Homo sapiens: one gene and its partners. The protein of the gene in region 2 purifies or fractionates together with the protein of the main gene of each other region. This does not show direct contact. Each region holds a gene or a part of one and is shown on either strand. Other genes may lie near its edges. The genes, in order: CYP4F2, UGT2B7, RBP3, PXMP2 and GALNT10.

Region 1 (4,527 bases), on a different chromosome or scaffold from region 2:
TTAATGGCTTCAGTTTTAGCCCAATGGCAATAGGGAGCCATGGGAAGTGTTTGAGCAGTGTAGGGACAGGTCACATCTGGGTACCAGGAAGATCTTTCTAGGGCTAGTGTGGAGGGCGTACTGGAGAGGACCAGCTGTAGAATGAAGGCACAGTGGGGACATTCTGAGACCAGAGCCAGGCCAGGGGCTGGAGGAAGGAGAGGAAGCATTGGAATGGACGGATGTCTTGGATTCAGTGTCCTCTCGTCCACACCTTTGCCCAGCACAGCAGTCCAGTGAGGAGGAGAAACATTTTTCTGCTTTTAAAACCAATAATTTTTCTGCATTTTTAACAAACAATTTTTTATTGCTGCATAAATAGATGCACATAGATTTGAAATACATGTGATAATCTAATACATTCATATAACTGGTAAAGATCAAATCAGTGTACTTGGGATATCTGTCGCCTGAAATATTTAGTCTTTTCTTTATGCTAGAAACATAACTAACATAAGCTAACTATTTAGGAATATACAGTACATATCGTAAACTATAGTGAACCCACTGATCTATCAAGTGCTAGGTTTTATTTCTCCTATCAAACCTCTTATTTATGCCCGTTAATCAACTTCTCCTCACCCCTCCCTCCCTTCTACCAATCTACCTTCTACTTTCATGAGATCCACTTTTTCAGCTCCCACATGTGAGTGAGAACATGCGATATTTGTCTTTCTCTTTTTGGCTTATTTACTTACCACAGTGACCTCCAGTTCCATCCATGTTGCCACAAATGACAAAATTCCAGTGTTTTTAATGGTGCATAGTATTCCATTGTGTATACATGCCACATTTCCTTTCTTCCTTCCTTCCTTCCTCCCTCCCTCCCTCTCTCTCTTTCTCTCTTTCTTCTTTCCTTTCTTTCTTTCTTTGAGACAGAGTCTTGTTCTGTCGCCCAGGCTGAAGTGCGGTGGCACGATCTTGGCTCACTGCAACCTCTGCCTCCCGGGTTCAAGCTATTCTTCTGCCTCAGCCTCCCAAGCAGCTGGGACTATGGGTGCACACCACCATGCCTGGCTAATTTTTGTATTTTTAATAGGGCTGGGGTTTCACCATATTGGCCAGGCTGGTCTCGAACTCCTGACCTCATGATCTGCCTGCCTCGGCCTCCCAAAGTGCTGGGATTACAGGCATGAGCCACCGCACCCGGCCGCCACATTTTCTTTATCCATTCAGTTGATGGGCACTTAGGTTGATTCCATATTTTGGCTGTTTTGAATAGTGCTGCAATAAATACGGAAGTATAGATATCTCTTCAACAGTTTTATTTTCTTTCTTTGGGATAGAAATTTCTTCTCTTTCTTTTCAGTAGTGGAATTTCTGGGTTATATGTTAGTTCTACTTTTAGTTTCTTGAGGAACCTCTGTGCTGTTCTCTGCAGTGGCTGCGCTAATTTATATTCCTGCCAACAGTGTGTGAGAGTTCCCCTTTCTCCATATCCTCACCAGTGTCTATCGTTGCCTGTCTTTTTGATAAAAGCCATTTTAACTGGGATGAGATGATATCTCATTGTGGTTTTGATTTGCATTTCTCTGATGATTAGTGACATTGAGCATTTTTCCATCTATCTGTTGGCCATTTGTATGTCTTATTTTAAGAAATGTCTATTCAGATCTTTTGACCATTTTTAAATAAGATGATTTGAGTTCTTTTTCCCCTATTGAGTTATTTGAGCTCCTTATATAATATATTCTGGTTATTAATCGCTTGTCAGATGAGTAATTTGAGAATATTTTCTGCCATTCTGTAAGTTGATTCTTCACTTTGTTGACTGTTTCCTTTGCTGTGCAGAAGCTTTTTACCTTGATGTAATCTCATTTGTCTATTGCCTGTGCTTTTGAGGTCTTAACACAGAAAATCTTTGCCTGGACCCATGTCCTGGAGTATAAAATCCAGATTTCAAGCAAAATTATGGATGTGGTTAAAAGAAAGGGTCCAAAAAATTTTATGATAAAAATGAGCTTCCTTATTAAGCTCCACCTTAGCAGTGACTATGGTCAACAGTTTTCTGTGTATTCTTCCAGAAAATGGCTATCCCAATGCCCACATTTATATGAATTCACACTGTGATTTTTATTTATATGAACACATACTGTGTTTTTCTTTGTAAAGAAAACTATACAAAATAGACGCAGTTCTGGACATTATCTCTGAGATCTATTTTTCTTAAAATACGAGTTTTCAAAAATGAGTTTGTTTTTAAATTGTTCTTTCATTGATAAATTTTAATTATATATATTAGAGGTACAATGTGATGTTATGATGTATGTATACAACCTGAAATTATTAAATCAAGGTAATGAACAAATCCATCACTTCATATATTTATCATTTTTATGTTGAGAACATATATATATTAGAGGTACAATGTGATGTTATGATGTATGTATACAACCTGAAATTATTAAATCAAGGTAATGAACAAATCCATCACTTCATATATTTATCATTTTTATGTTGAGAACATTTGAAATTTACTCTCTTAGCAATTTCAATTAATACATTGTTCACTAAATCACCATGCTGTGCAGTAGATCTCAAAAACTATTCCTCTTGTCTAACTGAAGCTTCTATCCTTTGACCAACATCTCACCCTTCTCTATCCCTCCCTCAGCCCTGGCCTCTGGTAACCATCATTCTGCTTCTATTTCTTTTCTTTTCTTTCTTTCTTTTTTTTTTCATTTTTGAGATGGAGTCTCGCTCTGTCACCCAGGCTGGAGTGCAGTGGCACGATCTCAGCTTACTGCGACCTCTGCCTCCCAGGTTCAAGTGATTCTCCTGCCTCAGCCTCCTGAGTAGCTGGGATTACAGGCTCCCGCAACCACGCTTGGCTAATTTTTTTGTATTTTTATTAGAGACGGGGTTTCACCATATTGGACAGGCTGGTCTTGAACTCCTGACCTTGTGATCTGCCGCCCTTGGCCTCCCAAAGTGCTGGGATTACAGGCGTGAGCCACCGCGCCCGACCTCCACTCCTGTTTCTATGAGCTTGACTATTTTAGGTCCCAAGATAAGTAAGATCATGTGTGTTTGTGTTTCTGAGCCTAGCTTACTTCACTTAGCATAAGTTCCTCCAGGTTCTTTCATGTTGTGGCAAACAAAATAAGTTTTCTTTCTTTTTTTTTTTTTAAGGCTGAATGGTATTCCATTGTATATACACACCACATGGAAAATGAGCATTAAATTATAAAACCAGTGATAAGAACAGATTCTTCTTGCACCAAATGAGATATTACAGATAAGACTAGCTTTTTCCTTGACAATCCTGCCACCCCACCTAATCCTTTCTCATTCTCCAAAGGTGTCTCCAGAGCCATAGATTTGTTATCTATCTATCTATCTATCTATCTATCTATCTATCTATCCATCATCTATCTATGTATCTATATACCTATCTACTATCTATATATCATCTATGTATCTCTGTTTCTATCATCTATGTATGTATCTGTCTATTCTCTATCTCTCTATATCTCTTATTTATTATCTGTCATCTATCAATCTATCATCTATCTCTGAATCATTAATTTCATAAATATATATTCATATACTTTTTGCCCTTTTTATGTGCACAAATGTATATATTTGTAACTTGTTTTCACTCGACAGTGTGTCTTAATGCTATTTTTTTCTGAATGCTAAATATTTTATTCCTTATTTATTCAGCTCATTCCTATGTTGAATGCACATAAACATTTTCAGTTATAGTAGATATTTCCAATTTGCCTTCCACAGTGTCTGTACTGATTTACCTTCCAGCCTGCAGAATGTGATGAGACTAGTGATCCCTATTTCCTCCTTTTGTGTAGCTGTATAGTATTCCATCGTGTGGCTGTTTATCTAAACATCTTCCCATCAATGTGTATGTGGCTTGTTTCCAACCTTTTGCTAAAAGTGGACATGAGGCAGTCAGCATGTGTGCACAGTGACCATTCCTTGCATGTATAAGCATCTCTGCAGGACAAATTCCCTGAAGTGCAATTGCTGAATCAAAGAACATTTGCACTGTACAATTTTAATTATCATTGCAAATCCTTTCCTATTAGCTGAGTTTGATGGCACAAGTTTTCCCATAACTTTACCAATACTACTAATGTATTATTAAATTTTAAAATCTATGCCAATCTTCATATTTCTTCTTTTGATGGACATTGTTTTAAATAAGAGTGAGGTTGAACATCTCTTTCACGTGTTGATGTTTGTTTCTTTTTATGGAAGTGGTTCCTTTATTTTTTTGCTCTTTTTCTTTGGATTCTTTAAAAATATTTACTTTTAAGAATGTGTATTAAAATTGATTTTTTTTTTTTGAGATGCAGTCTCTATCGCCCAGGTTGGAGTGCAGTGGTGTGATCTCAGCTCACTGCAACCTCCACCTCCCAGGTTCAAGCCATTCTCTTGCCTCAGCCTCCCGAGTAGCTGGGACTACAGGTGCCCTCCACCATACCCCGCTAAGTTTTTGTATTTTTAGTAGAGACGGGGTTTCACTGT
Region 2 (4,527 bases):
TGTCAAAAATAACCACCTGAAATTTATTTTGGAAGTAGTGCTTGATAATTTATAATTCCAATGAAGTTATACATAAAACCTTTGCAGCATTAATCTATTTCTTATAAGTAGCTTATTTATGGACTTGTTATTTTGTCAATCAAAGGACAACAGGCTCTAATATAACAACCTACACACAAGTAGATACATGTGAACTACTTCCCAAATTACTCAAAAAGATATGAATACATTAAAATTAAATTTGGAAAATGAAAACTAATATAAAATACATAAAACAAAATAAGCACGCAGGTCATTACAAAATTGTTACTATTTTTTACACTAGAATTATAAGGAATAGCTAAAATTTTTATACATTTTTAGAATATTTTTAATTTTAAAAAATTAAATTAATTTAACTTTTATTTGTAACTTTTATTTTAAGTTCAAGGGGACATGTGTAGTTTTTTTACATAGGTAAACTTGTGTCATGGGGGGTTATTGTACTGTTCGTTTCATCACCCAGATATTAAGGCTAAAATCAGTTAATTATTTTTCCTGATCCTCCCACCCTCCACCCTCCAATACACCACAGTGTATGTTGTTCCTGTCTATTTGTCCACATGTTCTCATCTTTCACCTTCCACTTATAAGTGAGGACATGCCATATTTATATTTCCATCCCTTTGTTAGTTTGCTAAGGATAATGGCCTCCAGCTCCATCCATATCCCTGCAAAATACATAATTTTGTTCTTTTTTATGACTGCATAATATTCTGTAGTGTATATGTACCATATTTTCTCTATTCAGCCCATAATCAATGGGCATTTAGGTTGATTCCATGTCGTTGCTATTGTGAAAAGTACTGCAATTAATACACCTGTGCATGGGTCTTTATAAAAGAACCATTTATAGTCCGTTGGTTATATACCCAGTAATGGGATTGCTGGGTTTCATGGTATTTTTACCTCTAGGTTTTTGAGGAATCGCCAGTCTTCCACAATGGTTGAACAAACTTACATTCCCACCAACAGATTATAAGCAAGCCTTTTCTATACTACCTCACCAGTATCATGATATTTTTTGAGTTTTTAATAATAGCCATTCTGACTGGTGTGAGATGCTATCTCATTATGGTTTTGATTTGCATTTCTCTAATGATGTTAAGCTTTTTTCTTTTTTTTTTTCATATGATGGTTGGCCACACGTAGGTTTTCTTTTAAAAGGTGTAACAATTTTTTAAATGCTTGAAATTTTCATTGATAATCTGATTTTTTCTAAGGTACTATTTTGGAAAATCATGATTTCCTTATATACCTAACTAATTATAAAAGTTGAGAAAATTAATGTGAGTATTCTATTTACATTAGTCTTTGAGTAGTTCTTATTTACTAACATCCCTTGATCTCATTCCTACTCTTTATACAGTTCTCACATTCTATAACTTTTGAATTCCACTCATGGAATAAAATATTTTCTTTATTGTAACAGGTTCTGTGGAGATTTGATGGGAATAAACCAGATACCTTAGGTCTCAATACTCGGCTCTACAAGTGGATACCCCAGAATGACCTTCTAGGTAAGACTCTGGTGAACAAATACTGAATATATTAGTAACAGCACATTAGAGTGTTAATAGTTCATCATGAAACAAGCTTATTGAATATTTGTTAAGGAAAAACAAAATGTAACTTCTTTATATTGATTTTCCAGTCTTAAGGGAGAAAGAATACATTATAATTTTTGGCATTTTATGATATACACCCACATTCTTTATAGTCTGAATCGGGGGAATCTTTATTTCAGGTGTTATTATATCTCACAAAATTTTTCAATAACTTCCTGGGCTGTCTCTCTGTCTCCTATTTCTACAACTTTACACCTGTTTTTTTCCTCTCCCGCAGGGTTATTTGAAATGCCACTAAAAATAATAGCTCTTCTATCACCAGTGACTCTGTATTTTCTGAAGAATTAAACTGCTAATCTTAATCATACAGTGATGATACATTTCACGATGAAGTGTGACCTGTCCTTCCTCAATCCTAGCACCACCACCAAACCACTGCCTGCTGCCTTGCCCACCCCATATATCACACTCTGTGACTGCACTTAAAATAAGAGTTCACTTCATGCCTATCTCTTTGCTGTCTTCTTTTTTGCACATTTTTGAAATCTAGAATGCAATTTTTCATTAGCCCAACTGGAAATCTTGTATTGTTTTGCAGTCTGAAGTCACACACACCGTATAGCCTTCAGTTACATACCCAGTACAAGTACGTGTTTTTTCCTCCGAAGTCTGAAACACAATTTTAATTTAGTTCAGTGTTTTAGCTGGAAAACACTGTCACTTTCAGAGCCTTTCATTGTGCATCTCATTTTATTCCTATGAGTAATTTTGCTAAAATTCATCCAATCCTAGGTCATCCAAAGACCAGAGCTTTTATAACTCATGGTGGAGCCAATGGCATCTACGAGGCAATCTACCATGGGATCCCTATGGTGGGGATTCCATTGTTTGCCGATCAACCTGATAACATTGCTCACATGAAGGCCAGGGGAGCAGCTGTTAGAGTGGACTTCAACACAATGTCGAGTACAGACTTGCTGAATGCATTGAAGAGAGTAATTAATGATCCTTCGTGAGTAGAACAATATTTTTCACTAGGTGGTATTTACAGATAGCTTCTCTTGTCAATAGTGAGTGTGAGTTTCATCCTTTTTATAAGAGACTAATTTTGAAAGAATTTAAATGATTTAACCAATCTGAAATCTGCTTTTATTTTTATAAGTTATTTAAAAATTGAATTTGAAACACATACATCTAAAGAATAGCCAGTTAGTGAAACAATTTTCTACACAAAAATAATTTTAAAAGGATATAGATAATACAAAAAATACATTTCTTAAAAATTTGACATAATTAATCCATAGAAGAAAGGAAGAATAAACCTGAAATAATATAATAAAATATTTTAATTAGATATCTAAAACACCTCAGAGTATAACCATTTTCTTGCTGAAAAATTAACTTTTATTATTATCATTATTGTAACAGACTTGAAAATGAGATTTAATTTTGATAGCATAAAACCCCCCTGTTTATGTTATAAAATCCAAATATATTTAGTATGTTTACAGAGCCATGAAGCCATCACTATTACATAATTTTAGAACATTTTTATCAACACAAAAGAAACTGCAATGACACAGAAGTCACTTCCTATGACCGCTTAGCCCTGGTCTAACTAATTTGTTTCCTTTCTCTATAGATTATTCTCTTTAGATATTTCATATGAATGGAATCATACAGTTTAGGGTGTTGTGAAATGACATTTCACCTAGGCTAATTTTTTGTTGTTTTTTTTTTCTGGTTTTAGTTTCATTCATGTTGTTGTGTGTTTTAATACTTCATTTCTTTTTATAGCAGTTTAATATTTTTTAGTAAAGATATGTCATATTTTAGTTGTTCACTTATCAGTTCATTGGCCTTTTGATTGTTTTCAATTGTGGCTATTAGGAAGATTGCTACACATGTTTTTGCATAAACATGTTTTCCTTTCTTTAGGGTTGATACTATAAGTGGAATTGCTGCTTCATGTGGGAACTGTATGTTTATGAAGAACTGCTAAACTGTCTTCCAAAGTACTTGTTTCATTCATGACTACCACCAGCAGTACAACATGGTTCCAATTCCTCCATACTTTTGCCAAACCTGTTATTCCCTGACTTTTTGTTACAGCCTTCTTAGTGGGTGTAAAATGATCTCTCATCCTGGTCTTGGATTGCATTTTCATTACGGCTAAAGGTGTTGAGAATCTTCATACGTGCCTACTGATCATTCATATATCTTCTTTGAAAACAGTCTATCCAATCCTTGGAACATTTTTAAACTTTGCTATTTGTCTTATTATTAAGTTTAAGAACTATTTATATATTATGGGTCATGTCAGATATATAACTTGTAAATATTTTGTCCCACTCTGGGTGCACTAAATTTTACTTTTTGATGTTGGTCTTTGAAGCACAAAAAATATAATTTTAAGTTAAATTTTTAATAATTGATTTTTTCAAACCCAAAGATATCAATGTGCAAAATTCCTTGTGGAGTCCAGCTACCATCAATTCAGCATTTATAGCTACTATCAATAATGTTTTTTTATATAAGCAGGGTATCATCTAAAGGAATACTTGAAAAATACTTTATCACAAAAAAAGAAGGATAATGAATGATAAAAATACCTTTAAAGAAGATAGGAAATAATTGAAAAAGAACACAAACCAGCTTGGACAAATAGAAAAAAAATATATAAAGCAAATTGGTAGATTTAAATATGATTATACAAATACTTTCACTCAATCTAAACAGACTTTAGAAAAGAGCAAGTAATTAGTAAAGACATAAAACATTTGAAGAACACAATTAACAAATGGAATCTTATAATGTAAAATGATACAAACGCACATACATACACACACAATAAACATATATGTATCATATATATCAACTTGAAGACACATTTTCCTAGAGCATGTCGAATAGTTATCTG
Region 3 (5,111 bases), on a different chromosome or scaffold from region 2:
ATGGATGCATATAAGGGGCTGCTGCCCACCTGGTAGATGCCCACAGAGAGTGCGCCTCCGGCCGTGGGCTCCCCAATGACCGTGGCCCGCTGCAGGTCCTGCATGGTGTGTGCAAAGGCCTCGGCCGCAGAGCCACTGGTGTGGCTCATCAGGATGTAGAGGTCCTTGTGTGAGCCGTAGCGCTGGCCGGCGACCTGGGGCAAGGTCCACACCTCCGTGACTTTTGAGGTGGCCCTGTCAAAGACAGAATACAGGTGCTGGCGGGGCTCTGCCTCAAAGAAGTAGGAGCAGAGCAGCGGGATGGCCGTGGAGTAGCTGCCAGGGTTGTAGCGCAGGTCGATCACCAGCGCAGCCGTGTCCACCAGCTGTTGCCATACCAGCCGCACCAGCTGTGGCCCCACGGCCTTCACTGTCTCCAGTTCAGCCATGGCGTCAAAACGCAGGTAGCCCAGCTGGCCGGGCAGCACCTCTGTCTTGAACAGGGCCTCAATAAGGTAGGTGAGCTCCTCTGGAGAGGGGACAGCAGGGGGTGGTGGGGGTGCTTCCTCTACCACCAGCTCGCCAGGGCTGTGGAACACTAGCAAGCGGTGGTCCCCAGACACCTCCTGGAGGTCTGCTGTGAGCTGAGAGGCCAGAGACTCCAAGTCCACAGCTGTGCGGTAGGCGCCCTGGGCCAGCTTGGCCCGCAGGAGGGCACTGGTCTGCCCCACGACCTCTGGCCGAGCATAGTGGGCCTCCAGCAGGTGCCCTGTGCCCTCCACCAAGGCCCCCAGGCTTTGGTGGAACTCCAGCACTTCCTGGGCTTTGTCCAGGGCCTCCTCGGCCAGCACGATGGCATCGGGCACCACTCCACCACCCAGCCAGGCCTCGCCGTGATTGTCGATGAAGGTGAGGACCGGCACGGTGAGCGCGAGGCTGCCTTCGGGTGTGTCCAGCAGCGGCACCGTGCGGGTGTGCAGCAGGTTGCCCGCGGTGATCTCACCTACCAGTGTGGCCCAGCCCAGCGACTGCATAAGGAAGGCGAACTCCTCCGCGGCCGTGGCGGTGCGGTGGCTGGTGAGCAGATACACCCCACGTTGGGTGCTGTAGCGTGGGCCCGGGAGCTCCATGTGGCTGAAGTGCTCCTGCGTGATGTTGGTGCGGCGATCATAGGTGGTGAAGAGGTGCACGGGGCCGGCCTCAGGGCCCTGGAAGTAGGACAGGAGCAGGGGCACAGCAGAGGATGGCCCTCCAGGGTTGTGGCGCAGGTCCATGATGAGGTGCTCCGTGTCCTGTAGCGGCTCCCACACCTGGCGCAGGACATATGGGGCCAACACACCCAGGACGGAGGCGTCAGCAAAACTATCGAAGCGCAGGTAGCCCACATTGCCTGGCAGCACCGACACCTGGAACACAGAGTCCACCAGTGCTTGCCGGATAGCCTCGTCCTCAGGCAACTCTGGGGCCACCCCTGGTGAGTCTTCGGCTGCAGCGTCGGGCGCGGGCCAAGAAGGAGTTTCTGTGGGCCCGATGGCTCGCACCAGGAGCCTGGGATCCTCAGACGCAGCCTGCAGGCCGGCATTGAGCTTGGTGACCAGATCTTCCTCGGAGACCACCGTGGAGAAGTCCATGCTGGCCAAGTGCTGCAGCAGGGTGGGCACACGGTCCACCAGCGTGTAGTAGTCCTTCAGGACCTCCTGGAGGCAGTGGACTACCCCTGGAAGGGCGCTGCGCAGAGTGAGGATGGCCAGGGCTTTCTCCAGGGCCTGCTCGGCCGGAGTCCCCACACAGGGCAGCACCCCGCTGCCCTCCCACGTCTGGCTGCCTCCACCAAGGGGCCCCAGGGACCTGGACACGGGCACCGTGAAGAAGAAGTCAGACTCGCCTATCCTCAGCTTCCGGAGGTCCAGGGCCCCTCCCCCAGTCCGCTCGCCCACCACGATGGCCCTGCGCATCTGCTTAAGGATGTGCGCGATGTCCTCGGCCACGCCCCTGGTCTGGCTGCTGGTGAGGACCACCACATCCTTGTCGGCACCGTACCTTTCTCCCAGGACCTGGGGCAAGGTCCAGATCTCCGTGGTGGTGTTGGAGGGGCGGTTGTAGATAGTGTCCACGTGCAGGATGGTGTTCCCTGGGTGCAGGTAGGAGATGATGTAGGGAATGCCAGAGACCTGGCCTCCTGTGCAGTGCCGGAGATCCAGCACTAAGGCGGAGGTGCCCATGAGATTCCCCCACACGTGGGCCACCAGGAACTCCCCCATCATGCTCAGCACCTCCTGGCCCGGGACGCTGTCCACCCGCAGGTAGCCCACATTACCCTCCAGAACCTCATGGCGGAGGCCCCTTTGCAGCCAGGCAAGCAGTTCCTCTTCTGAGAGGCTGGTGAGTGCTGGGACTTGTGGGGGAGGCTCGGGGGTGCTGGGCTCATAGGAGATGACCAGGCGAGGATCGTTCAGGGAGCTCTGCACCCCGGCTGTCAGCACACTGGCCAGCGTCTGCGGGTCTGAGATGCTCAGAATCTCATGGCTCTTGATGGCCTGCTGGATGGCTTCCTGCATGCCCAGCAGGTTCTCCGGGAAGCAGTAGTTATCCAAGAGGACCTTGGCCATGTCCAGCACCAGGCTTGGCTGGAACAGGTGTGTGGGGCCAGCCAGGCCACAGAGCAGCACGGACATGAGCAGAACCCATTCTCTCATCATGGGGACCCAGGGGGAGGCCTGGCTCCTGCACAAAAGCTCCCTGGACTGTGTGCAAGGCCGTGGCCCTGCTCTGTGCAGCTGCCTTCCGCCCTTGTCCTTCTCAGCTGGTGGACAGAAGGTCTGGGGCTAAACTCCTGAGTTGGGGCAAGGCTTCCAGCTCCAGTAAGCCTTTAATCCTGTCTAATTCAAGCACATCAACCCTGGGTATCGGGGAGGAGTGGCCAGGGTGGTTTGACCCAGAAGGTACATTGCATCTTATCTTGCTGTGTTGTGTCTGCATATCATAACATTAATCACTGCCATTATTTTAGTTCCTGCTACATGCCAGACACTGTGCTCCATCCTTTACAAGCTGACAGTTTCCACCAGAGCCTTGCAAAGTCCAGTTATTAACTTGCAAGTCCTCCTTGGAGAACTGTTCTGCCACTGTCTCTCCCGTGGCCTCAGGGAAATGTCTTAATTACTTATTGTGTAGATTAAATGAGAAAATATGTGTAAAGCACTTCTTCCCAGTACCCAGTAAGTAGGAAGCACTCATTACTGGTAAGTTATCTGTATTAGATATTACCTCTGTTTCATAGCTAAAAAACAAAAAAACAAAAAAACAAAACAAAACAAAGCAAAGCAAAACAAAACAGGCCAGAGAGTTCTGTAACTAATAGAAGCCCATCGTTTTAGGTGTGGACAGATAGGGGGTGCAGCAAGAAGAAGTCCTTGGGGCTACAATTGGCCCATACAGTGCAGAGGCTGAGTCTGAGGCTGGCATCAGCCTCAGAGCTTGAGATTTATTTCTATGTCCCTTTAATGCCTCCAGGGAACAGAACGGGTCCCCCTACAGCTTTCTAATGCTGGGAATGATGTGTCTGGACCACCATGTAGGGTGTGGAGTGTAGAGGCGCCCACCTTCCAGACATCACAGGACTAGTGTTCCCATTCAAATGAGGTTAGCTCTGAGAGTTAATGGCTAGAGGGGACTCCTGCTTCTTGAAGGCTCAGCCCACAGCCTGCAGTTCGCAGGGAGAATCAAGCAGGAAGTCTTGGGTCTCCGTGGTCCCAGGCTTCACATGGAATCCAGATCATTCCTCCTGACTGCATAAAGCACAAGAAACAGGGAAAGGTAGACTGCTGAACTCTTCAGATCCCAGCTCCTGCCACTTCTTATAGAAATAATGTGGGTGCTGCTTGCAACTGACTGGCTGTAGAAATCCAAGAAGTCCTGCTATGGGGTCGGAACCTGGAAGCCCTGCTTTGCCGCTGAATGCCTCTGGAGATGGGCACTTTCCTCACTTAACAGACAGACAACTACGGCCCAGAGAGTGGTCGCAAGGCCAGGGCAGAGCGTTGGGAGAGCTGTCCCAAGCTGGCTCCAGCAACACCGCCTTGGCTGAGCGGGCAGCAGGCAGGCGCCCCTGTGTGCCTCAGTAGGCAGCTGGAGAAGGTGGTCTCAGGGACGTGGGCTTTCTCTACACAGCTGAGACCCACAATCTGCTCTTTGGAAATCATTATCTGAGGATGTTTACCAACTGCTTTATGAAGGCCAAAGAGGTCAATTAGCTAAAACAAACATATTTTTAGCTCATTAGGATTTGTGTAATGCTCAAGTGACATATGGTCACATCACTCCACCGTATGCAGCCAATGGAAGTGAGCCTGATTTACGATGAGAATGGGGTGGGGCTGGGATGCTGCCAACACCTCCGGATGAATGCACTCCTTGCATATCCTTAGCCCTGCTGGGAAGCCTGGGCCTTCTCCTCTGCCTCCACTTGGAGAATCACAGTTCTGAGCATGCACTTCCGTGTCCTCAGAGGGCACTTGTCTGCCATTGCTTGAGTCCAGGCAAAGCTTCTGGCCCAGAAAGGGCTTGGGGGAGAACAGGAGTAAGACTGTCTTTGGGGAAAGGATTCCCTGGAGTCTTACTAAGATGTAGTTTCAGGATAGGATTGTCTGGACCTATCACTGGGATTTGATTTGTGTGGCTAGCCCAGAGCCTTAAGAAGGACGTGAGAAAAAATCAGACTGTTGCAAGTCCCTGGGGTGCCTGAGTTGGATGGGGCATGGGTAGAGAAGCAGTGCTTCTCCTGTGGGTAAGGCCCAAGCAGGTGGAAGAGCAAGTTCTGTCCTCAGAGTTCTCCAGACTCCAGGGGGCCAGGGTGTCCTTGCCCCCAGGCCGTGGGGGGATGTAGGAAGATGGCAGCCAGCCTCCTTAGCTCATGAGGAGAATATGTTCTGGGTAAGTCCCCAGAGTGAAAGCCGAGAGCTCTACATCTTCCCATCCAGACCCTGACAACTGTAGGGCCAGGGTGGGTTCAGAGAGTCCACTTGATCTTGGGGGCTGAGTTTTGGAGTTGGAGGGGGCTGGAAGGCCCTGCACCCCCTCACTTATACAAATGTCCTGTGGGCAGAGCTGTGCAGGGTAGCTTAGAAGCCATC
Region 4 (4,527 bases), on a different chromosome or scaffold from region 2:
GCACTTTGTGAGGCCAAGGCCAGTGGATAGCTTGAGGCCAGGAGTTCGGGACCAGCCTGGGCAACATGGCGAATACCCATCTCTCAAAAAGTAAAAAATGAGCCAGTGTGGTGATGTGCACCTGTAGTTCCAGCTGTTTGGGAGGCTGAGGTGAGAAGATCCCTTGAGCCCAAGATGTGGAGGCTGCAGTGAGCAGAGATCACACCACTGCACTCCAGCCTGGGTAACAGAGCAAGACACTGGTTCAAAAGACAAAAATAAATAAATAAATAAATAAACACATTAGTCTGTCAAAATTTTTTCTGAATATTTTGATAACTGTATTTCAGTATTATTGGTTCCTTTGTAGTCCTATTTTATTTATTTATTTATTTATTTTTTATTTTTGAGGCAGAATCTCGCCCTGTTGCCCAGGCTGGAGTGCAGTGGTGCGATTTCAGCTCACTGCAACCTCTGCCTCCCGGGTTCAAACGATTCTCCTGCCTCAGCCTCCTGAGTAGCTGGGATTACAGGAGCCCGCTACCACACCCAGCTTATTTTTGTATTTTTAGTAGAGATGGGGTTTCACCATGTTGGCCAGGCTTGTCTTGAACTCCTGACCTCGTGATCCGCCTGCCTTGGCCTCCCAAAGTGCTGGGATTACAAGCGTGAGCCACTGCGCCCAGCCGTATTTTATTTTATAGATTACAAAACATTCTGAGAAGGGGGTCCACAGGCTTCACTAAACTGCCAAAGAGATCTGTGGCACAAGAAGTTTGAGACCCCTACTGATAACACAGAAGAGTTCCGGGCCTGGAGGTTAACCTACCGGCATAATCCCAGTCAGAATCCAACGCATGGGAGGCGTGTTCACCTGCACTCAGCAGGTGTGTCTGTTCTGACTGTCCCACCTCCCCCGTTCACGAGCACCTTCAAATCCTCACCATCTCTAGGAGCACCAGCCAGGTTGTGCTGTGTGTCTGAGACGTGTCACCTTTTTTTTTTTTTTTTTGAGACGGAGTCTCACACTGTTGCCCAGGCTGGAGTGTAGTGCGTGATCTCAGCTCACTGCAACCTTCGCCTCTTGGGTTCAAGCAATTCTCTGCCTCAGCCTCCCAAATAGCTGGGATTGCAGGTGCCCGCCACCATGCCCGGCTAATTGTTTTGTGTTTTTAGTAGAGACGGGGTTTCACCATCTTGGCCAGGTTGGTATTGAACTCCTGACCTCGTGATCCACCCGCCTCGGTCTCTCAAAGTGCTAGGATTACAGGTGTGAGCCACTGCACCTGGCGTCACCTTCTGTCCTGAAAGTAAATTTGTTTTAACCATTCACTTCTCCATACAGAAGTTATAAAGGTTCATGTATTCAAACATGACATTATTCTCCTTCATGCCTTTCCTTACAGGAAGATAATAGAAATATTCTCCTCTGCTTTCCTCCGGTATTCTTATGGTTTTACTTGTGTACAGTAGGAGATAGACTTCTGTGTTGATTTTTCCACTTACATAGCAAATTTTCTCATTACCATTTATTGGGCAATCCCCAGTATTTTGAAATATTCTCATTTCCATCTGTACAGGCAATTATCTGCACTCTTTGTTCTTTTGCTGGATTATTTTCTTTTTTTTGAGATGGAGTCTCACTCTCGCCCAGGCTGGAGTGTGGTGGCACAATATCGGCTCACTGCAACCTCCGCCTCTCGGGTTCAAGTGATTTTCATGTCTCAGCCTCCAGAGTAGCTGGGACAACAGGCGCCCACCACCACGCCTGGCTAATTTTTGTATTTTTAGTAGCAATGGGGTTCCTCTGTGTTGGCCAGGCTGGTCTTGAACTCCTGGCCTCAAGTGATATGCCCACCTTGGCATTACAGGCATGAGCCACTGTACCCAGCTTCTCCCCCTTACTTTAAACAAGAAAATATTTAAGCATTTCTTTAAAAATTTTTTTTAGTTTGTATATATTTAGAGGGTACGAGTGCAGATTTCTTATGTGACTGTGCTGTGGTGAAGTCTGAGCTTTTACTTCCCATCACCCAAGTAGTCAGTGGTGATTTTCAACCCTCTTCTCCCCGCCACCTTTTCAAGTCTCTGGTGTCTGTTATTTCCCTCTGTTGGTCCATGTATACCCACTGTTTAGCCACCACTTATGAGTGAGAACATCGGCTGAGGCAGGAAGGTCACTTGAACCCAGGATGTCGAGACCAGCCTGGGCAACAGAGTGAGACCCCTTCTCTACAAAAAAATTAAAAATCAAAGGGTTGTGGTGGCACATGGCTGTAGTCCCAGCTACTCAGGAGGCTGAGACGGAGGCTTGATGTCAGGAGGTTGAGGCCAAGTGAGCCGACATCACGCCACTGCACTCCAGCCAGCATGGGCAACAGAGTGAGATGGCGAGACCCTGTCTTGGAAAAAAAAAGTGAGAACATGCAGTGTTTGACTTTCCATTGGTGAGTTGTTTCACTTGGGATAATGGCCCCCGGTTCAATCGACGTCACTGCAAAAGACATGCTTTTTTTTTTTTTTTTTTTTTTGACACAGAGTCTCGCTCTTTCATCCAGGCTGGAGTGTAGTGGCGCAATCTCATCTCACTGCAACCTCCGCCCCCCAGGTTCAACGATTTTCCTGCCTCAGCCTCCCAAAGTGCTGAGATTACAGGCGTGAGCCACCGTGCGCGGCCGAGTTCATTCTTTTTTTTATAGCAGAGTAGTGTTCCGTGGTGTATTTATGGCACTTTTTCTTTATCCAGTCCTCTGTTGGGGGACGTTTAGGTTGATTCCACGTGTTTGCTGTTGTGGATAGCGCTGTGATAAACACACGAGGGCAGGGATTGTTTGATATGATTCCTTTTCCTTTGGGTAGAGGCCCAGTAGTGGGATTGCTGGATCGAATGGTGGTTCTATTTTCAGGTCTTTGAGAAATTTCCATACTGTTTTCCAGAAGGGCTGTACTAATTTGCATTCCCACCAGCAGTGTGTAAGTGTTCACTTTTCTCCACATTCTTGCCAGCATCTATTGTTTTTTGACCTTTTTTTTTTTTTTTTTGAGGCAGAGTTTCACTGTGTCAGCCAGGCTGGAGTGCAGTGGCACGATCTCGGCTCACCGCAACCTCCGCCTCCCGGGTTCAAGTGATTCTCCTGCCTCAGCCTCCTGAGTAGCTGGGATTACAGGCACACGCCACCATGCCCAACTAATTTTTGTATTTTTTTTTTTTGGTAGAGACAGGGTTTTCCCATGTTGGTCAGGCTGGTCTCAAACTGCTGACCTCGTGATCCGCCCACCTCAGCCTCCCAAAGTGCTTAAATTACGGTCATGAGCCACCGCGCCTGGCCACTTGACTTTTTAATAATAGCCATTCTGACTCGCGTGAGGTGGTATCTCCTTGTGGTTTTAATTTGCATTTCTCTGATGATTAGTGATGTTGAACATTTTTTCATATGTTTCTTGGCCACTTGTTTTTCTTCTTTTGAAAAATGTTTGTATCCGTTGCCCACTTTTTTAATGAGGTTATTCATTTCTTTCTTGTTGAGTTGTGTAAGTTCCTCACAGATTCTGGATAACAGTCCTTTGTAGGATGCATAATATGCATATATTTTTTCCCAGGCTGTAGACTGTCTGTTGATTGTTTCTTTTGCTGTGCAGAAGCTTTTTTGTTTAATGAAGTCCTGTTTGTCTGTTTTTGGTTTTGCTGTATTTGCTTTTGAGCACTTAGTCACAAATTCTTTGTCTTGGCGGACGTCCAGAGGAATTGCTCCTAGGATCTTTATGGTGTCAGGTCTTGGGTTCAGGTCTTGAATCCACCAGCTGACATTTAGAATGAACTTACTGGAGTCCTTTTTTTTTTTTTTTCATAACTCCTAACAAGTTTTGATTGGAAAGACATCGACTTTGGAGGTTATTTGGGAGGAATTGACAGCGTAGCTCTGAGTAGCAGTTCTGGTGCCCAGGGCCAGCCTTGGGAGTCACCTCCTCCAGTTGTCCGCAAGGAGTTTTGGGCCAGGACAGACATCACTGCCAGCATGAGCAGGCTGCTGTCTGGCATCTCACTGATCATTTTCCATCTTGCTGGTTGGCTCCTTAGAGCCGCAGTGCTGAGTACACATGTGTGCTGTCTGCGTACACACAGAACAAAATCCAATAGCAGTTTAAAAACCATCACGATAGGGTCTGGGTGCCCGGAATTCAGTTCTGATGGGCAGTGAGACTGTTCACCACCCGCCTTCCCTCCTTTGCAGGGGAAAGACGCCTCAGCCTTCGCCGCCAAGATGAGGGGGGGCTTCTGGCCGGCGCTGAGGATGAACTGGCGGGTGTGGACGCCACTACAGTTCATCAACATCAACTACGTCCCTCTGAAGGTGAGGGCCACGGGGCTCAGCCTCTGCTAACATTACTTTGTCAGCCTTTTCCTTCCTTCCTTCCTTCCTCTTTCCTCCCCCCCTCCCTCCCCTCTTCTTTTCTCTTCTCTTCTTTCTTTGGTAGTTTTCCGCTAGACTTAGTTTCATCCGTGTCTAGACTCCTCAACTACCCTTGGATTTTGCCCATGACCCTGAA
Region 5 (4,779 bases), on a different chromosome or scaffold from region 2:
CCCAACCAAGACTCAATCATAGGACCACAGGTGGAGCTGGAAGCATCATCCAAAAACTTGTCATTTTACTGTGGAAAACAGGCCTAGTTGGAAGCAGCATTTGCACAAGATCTCACTGAGTTTTTTTGTAGAGCTGGGCCAGACAGTGCTCTTCCTACCATATCTAATACCTGATAGCATGAAAATGTTTTGGTAAGCAAGTACTCATGCCTGTTGGGTAAGCATCAGAAATGAGTTACAGCTGGGTGTGGTGGCTCATGCCTGTAATTTCAGCACTTTGGGAGGCTGAGGCAGGAGGACTGTTTGAGGCCAGGAGGTCAAGAACAATCTGGGTAACATAGCAAGACTCCATCTCTACAAAAAATAAAAAAAATTAGATGGGCATGGTGGTGTGTGTCTGTGGTACCAGCTACTAGGGAGGCTGAAGTGGGAGGATCACTTGAGCCCACAAGTTGAAGGCTGCAGTAAACTATGAGTGCCACTGCACTCCAGCCTGGGTGACAGAGGGAGACCCCATCAAAAAAAAAAGTTATGCTTATTTCATATTGTCACTGCCCTCCTGAGATCCTCCGCTCCTGGGTGTGACCCTTTGTGGGCTGCCCCACGTAACTCTTCAAGCTAACCTCCTTCTGCTCCTCCAACACAGAAACTTCTACTTACCTCAGGGCCTTTGCACTAGCTGTTCCCTCTGCCTGGAACTCTGTTCCGGGAAATCATCTTGGTTCACCCTCCTTCATGTCTTTCAGCTCTCACCATTCTAGCTAACGTTGACCCCCACTCCAGTCTCTAATATATCATTGCTTTATACCCTTCATAGCCCTATTTGCATCTGAAATCATCTTAGTTGTTTTAGGTCTGCCTTTCACTCTAGAATGATGGCTGTTGGGAGTTTTTAGTACCCAGCAGAATGCCTGAGTCCGAAGTAGGTGGTCTACGTGAAGAATGATGAAAAGAAGAATGACACATGAGAAGGAAGAAGGCAGAGACCACTTTAGAGAAAGTCTGGAGGTTTACTCAACAACGTTCACAATCACAATTGTACATGGTAAATCAGTCTTTCACAAAGGCTTATTTTTCCAGGCAGGAGGAGAGGCTGGTGGTCTTGAGCTTTTGGCCTGGAATTCCAGTCTGAATTTTCAAATATTCCCTGCCTCCAACCCCTTTGGGATCCTAGTCTTCAAGCCAATAACAGAGCAGGAGTCTGACCCTGTTCTGTTGCCTGGCACGGCTGAATCAAAGCCATTCTGGAAGCAGATGTTAAGGTGAACTTGTCACTTGGTATGTAGGTCCGACTCCCATCCCAGAGGTGGCAGTGGGCCTTGGCTCAAGATCAAGTTTGAACTAAAATATTACTTGGATTTTTCACAAAGAGTGTCCGTTGAAAGCAATAAGGAATTCCAGAACAGAACTGCACTTCTTGTCCCTCTCTCACACTTACAAAGCTTCAGAAAACATTAAAAATGCATTACCTCCTAGGAATTACAAAAGATCACCCAACTGTACAAACTAGATATCGCTGAAGCAGAGACTCTGATTCCTCAGTTACTACTGTAAAGTGCTTTGCCACTCTTTTTGAGACTCCAGAGACTAGGAAAATGGAGATGCACAGAGAGACATAAGGAGCTGTTTTCCAAGACATCACCTGTTTCTTAAGGAAAAAAAGAAATTCAACTGGTGGGAAGTTTGAAAAGTGAATGTCATGTAGACTTTGGAAATCCATTTGTTACATCTTTAACAGAAACTGCTCTTTCTCTCCTGGACCGAATGTCACATCCTCTCGTCCGATTCCTCCTGTGGATGTACCCCGTTCTGCCTGAGCATTTTTTCCTAAAGGGAAGAATCAATAGTTTCTGACTGTTTTAACAGCTGAAAGCTCCAACTGGAGGCAGAAGATGGGATGGCTTTTCACACACGTGCGTGCAAGTTTAGCCACCTCCAAAGGCCTTGTTCTTAAAGCAACAGTGCTGTTTGCATTATGAAATGTCTCTGGAGTTCCCCTTTGGAAAGGCTGCTGGTGGGCCACATGGTCACGATACTTTCAAGTCACACCCTACTTTGTGACCTTATCCTCAGAGTAAAGGCTTTAGAGGAAAAGGGACCCCACAGTCTCACCCATTACCTGGCTGTCAGCATCTCCATATGCTCCTGGCTGAGTTTTATTGAGCATCAGCTGGGGATGTGAGCAGAAACCTGAATCCTTGAGACAGGTGGTTTTCAAAAAGGAAGCCATAACAATGAGTGGCTTAGTACTGGCAATTGATCAGTTGGTCCATGAAATGGAGCCAGTCAAGTTCTGTCCTTCCTTCCCCTCCCACATACTTTGTCAAGTCCCAGGACCTACTGATATGGGCTCAGCAATGACAAATGCCAGAGTGCTCAGAGGACACACCCATCCCTTTTCAGGGTGTGAACCCAGACTGGAAAGGAGAACCAAAGGATGGGAAAGGCAGGCCCGGGACGGCTTGCTGCTGCTCCTGCTTTCACAGGAATCCTGGTCATGCCAGGAACACTGCCGCCCACTTGGGGTGGGACTATGTGGAAGTCTAGCTAGTGCTCGGCACCCCTTAACCCAATGGTGAGAAACAGGACAAACATGCTGGGGGTTCAGAGGGTGGACCGCAGGGATGGCCCCCAAACAGGTCCCAGTGAGGTAATGCAAGGCCTCCTCTCGGGGGCTGATGAGGTCTTCTAGGCCACAGACTAAACGCACTGCCCAGCCTTTAGTTTGGAGTGTGACTTGCACTGACTGAAATAAATCTGACCTGTCACCCTTGGGGGACATCTCAGTCTCAGATCTTGCTCCAGACCCAACATCTCCTGCTTGAAATGAGACATTAAGAAACACACACTCATCCAGTAGGAACTGCACACACCACCAAAAACGTTCCCCTCCCCACAACCCTGCCCCTTTATGTTTGTCTAGCAAGGCACTAGGAAATGGTTCAAGTTTAGGGATTTGCTCTATATTTGCATTTTTCTTTTTAAAAGGCACAGTTTTTATTTTAACGACGCTGCATTGCTCTTTGATGATGAATCTCAATTCGACTCCTCAAACTGTCAACACTCTTGTTATCCTAGATTCTAGAAGGGGCCTCATCTTTTGACTTCTTTCTATAGAGGGCCACTTCTAAAGCTACAGCACTCATTTGGAAAAGGACACTGGGATCAACACGTAAGCGTTGCAAGCACAGGGGCCGCCTCTCTTGCAGACAGGTGGCCAAAGCAGGGCTTGTGCTGGGCCAGAAGTGGAAGTAATTCCTCGCCAGCTACACATTCAGTCTGACTGGTGGATGATTGGGAGTGTTTGTCCCTCCCTCCCCCAATAATTGATGGCCTTGAGATCTGCCAGCATCTCAAAGGCAGATTCGTGGCTCTGTTCCCAGACTTAGGTCTCAGTTATTTAATTGGTAAATGACACAATCAAGAGACTCAACACTAATTGGAATGCTGATTTCAAGTATTTCCTGGGCTAGCTGGTGGAAGCCATAGATTGTGGAATGTGATTTCCATTTCTGAATCAGTGGGTGGCAGGTTGGTTACAGAAATGCTTCCTATTAGTCTGGAGGCCCTCTAGGAGTCTGACATGTAATTAACAAAGCAAAAGGTAAACATGAAGGGCTGGCATGGAGCTGGGTGTATATCTGGCTGTGGGACGTCGGGTTCTTTTCTCCACTGCAAATGAGACTACAGTTGTGATGATGGTGGGAGGTTCCAGGGGTGCAGGTCTTCACCAAGGACCATGTTGTACCACAGCCTCTGCTGAGCTGAGGGACACATGTCCCCCTGCTTTCCCAACACCACCAACTTTGGATTTCACAGATTGTCTCTAGGCTGGGGGCTGCCTTGACTGTATTACACCTGGCTGGCTCCTTTAATCACAGCATTCTAGAAATCCATATTGGATGTGGAATACCAGAATCCTATGTAGCATCCTAGTTTGCAATCCAATTATAGAGTTCTTTAAAAATTCTGGAGTTCTGTATGAGAACTAGAACCATGATGAGGTCAGAGGCAGGCACTTTGCCCACAGTTGATCCTGGAGGCCTCCAGACTCTGTGAGGTGAGCACCTCGCAGCACCTCTGTTCCTCTTTTGAGGCCAGTAATTGCCTGGGGAAGAGAGACAGGGAAATGGAAGCATGGATCAGGGCAAATCAGCCAGCATTTCTAGTTTGGAGGTCTACCTGGCCTTTTCCGTGGGCTCAGGGCCATCTGAAACACTGCCCTGTAAAGCTGGTGCTGGGCTGTCCTTGTGCCTGGAGAGTGCTAAAATTGACATTTCAAATACCCAGAGAGCAGGGGGAGATATCCCGCATGTCCATAGCTGCAAAGAAATGTCTAGGGGGGCTCCCTCTTCTGACTCCTCACCTGGCAGCTGATCAGCATTCAATACTGAACACTCTTAGGGCCCCAAGTATGGCCTTTGACCGGACCAAATCACCTGGGGTTGTGACAGAGAACAGAAGCTGTGCAGTAACTGCAATGTTCCCCCCAGGACGGCAGAAACTAAAAAGCCCCAAGAGGACTTCTTTCTCTTCTGCTGCAGATGAGTGGCATCGATACTAAAAGCTGCCCCAAACAGGCAAATTTTACCTTTGTTTCTAAAGCACCATCATGTAGGAGAGCCATCTGAGGGCTGGGCAACCTCGCAGGACTCACTTTTGGGTGGCCTAGGCTACCTTGGTGTTCTCCCACATAATGTTCAAGGGGACATAGTGACAAAGTTGAAAAGGCTCTGTTGCTTTTCCGTGATGTCAGCAGGGATTAAAGCAGTCTCTGCT

Evidence for each region.
Region 1: the proteins of UGT2B7 (region 2) and CYP4F2 purify together in Homo sapiens (co-immunoprecipitation; one study listed by IntAct). This does not show direct contact.
Region 3: the proteins of UGT2B7 (region 2) and RBP3 purify together in Homo sapiens (co-immunoprecipitation; one study listed by IntAct). This does not show direct contact.
Region 4: the proteins of UGT2B7 (region 2) and PXMP2 purify together in Homo sapiens (co-immunoprecipitation; one study listed by IntAct). This does not show direct contact.
Region 5: the proteins of UGT2B7 (region 2) and GALNT10 purify together in Homo sapiens (co-immunoprecipitation; one study listed by IntAct). This does not show direct contact.

What each region holds. Positions count from the first base shown.
Region 1 is NC_000019.10:15,880,443-15,884,969, reverse strand, and holds part of CYP4F2 (cytochrome P450 4F2 precursor), read left to right. Parts: intron 1-4,527. UniProt on the Homo sapiens protein: A cytochrome P450 monooxygenase involved in the metabolism of various endogenous substrates, including fatty acids, eicosanoids and vitamins.
Region 2 is NC_000004.12:69,105,704-69,110,230, forward strand, and holds part of UGT2B7 (UDP-glucuronosyltransferase 2B7 isoform 1 precursor), read left to right. Parts: intron 1-1,471; coding exon 1,472-1,559; intron 1,560-2,399; coding exon 2,400-2,619; intron 2,620-4,527. UniProt on the Homo sapiens protein: UDP-glucuronosyltransferase (UGT) that catalyzes phase II biotransformation reactions in which lipophilic substrates are conjugated with glucuronic acid to increase the metabolite's water solubility, thereby facilitating excretion into either the urine or bile.
Region 3 is NC_000010.11:47,346,052-47,351,162, reverse strand, and holds the start of RBP3 (retinol-binding protein 3 precursor), read right to left. Parts: upstream 2,801-5,111; 5' UTR 2,679-2,800; coding exon 1-2,678.
Region 4 is NC_000012.12:132,697,039-132,701,565, forward strand, and holds part of PXMP2 (peroxisomal membrane protein 2), read left to right. Parts: intron 1-4,211; coding exon 4,212-4,331; intron 4,332-4,527. UniProt on the Homo sapiens protein: Seems to be involved in pore-forming activity and may contribute to the unspecific permeability of the peroxisomal membrane.
Region 5 is NC_000005.10:154,417,196-154,421,974, reverse strand, and holds the end of GALNT10 (polypeptide N-acetylgalactosaminyltransferase 10), read right to left. Parts: 3' UTR 991-4,779; downstream 1-990. UniProt on the Homo sapiens protein: Catalyzes the initial reaction in O-linked oligosaccharide biosynthesis, the transfer of an N-acetyl-D-galactosamine residue to a serine or threonine residue on the protein receptor. Has activity toward Muc5Ac and EA2 peptide substrates.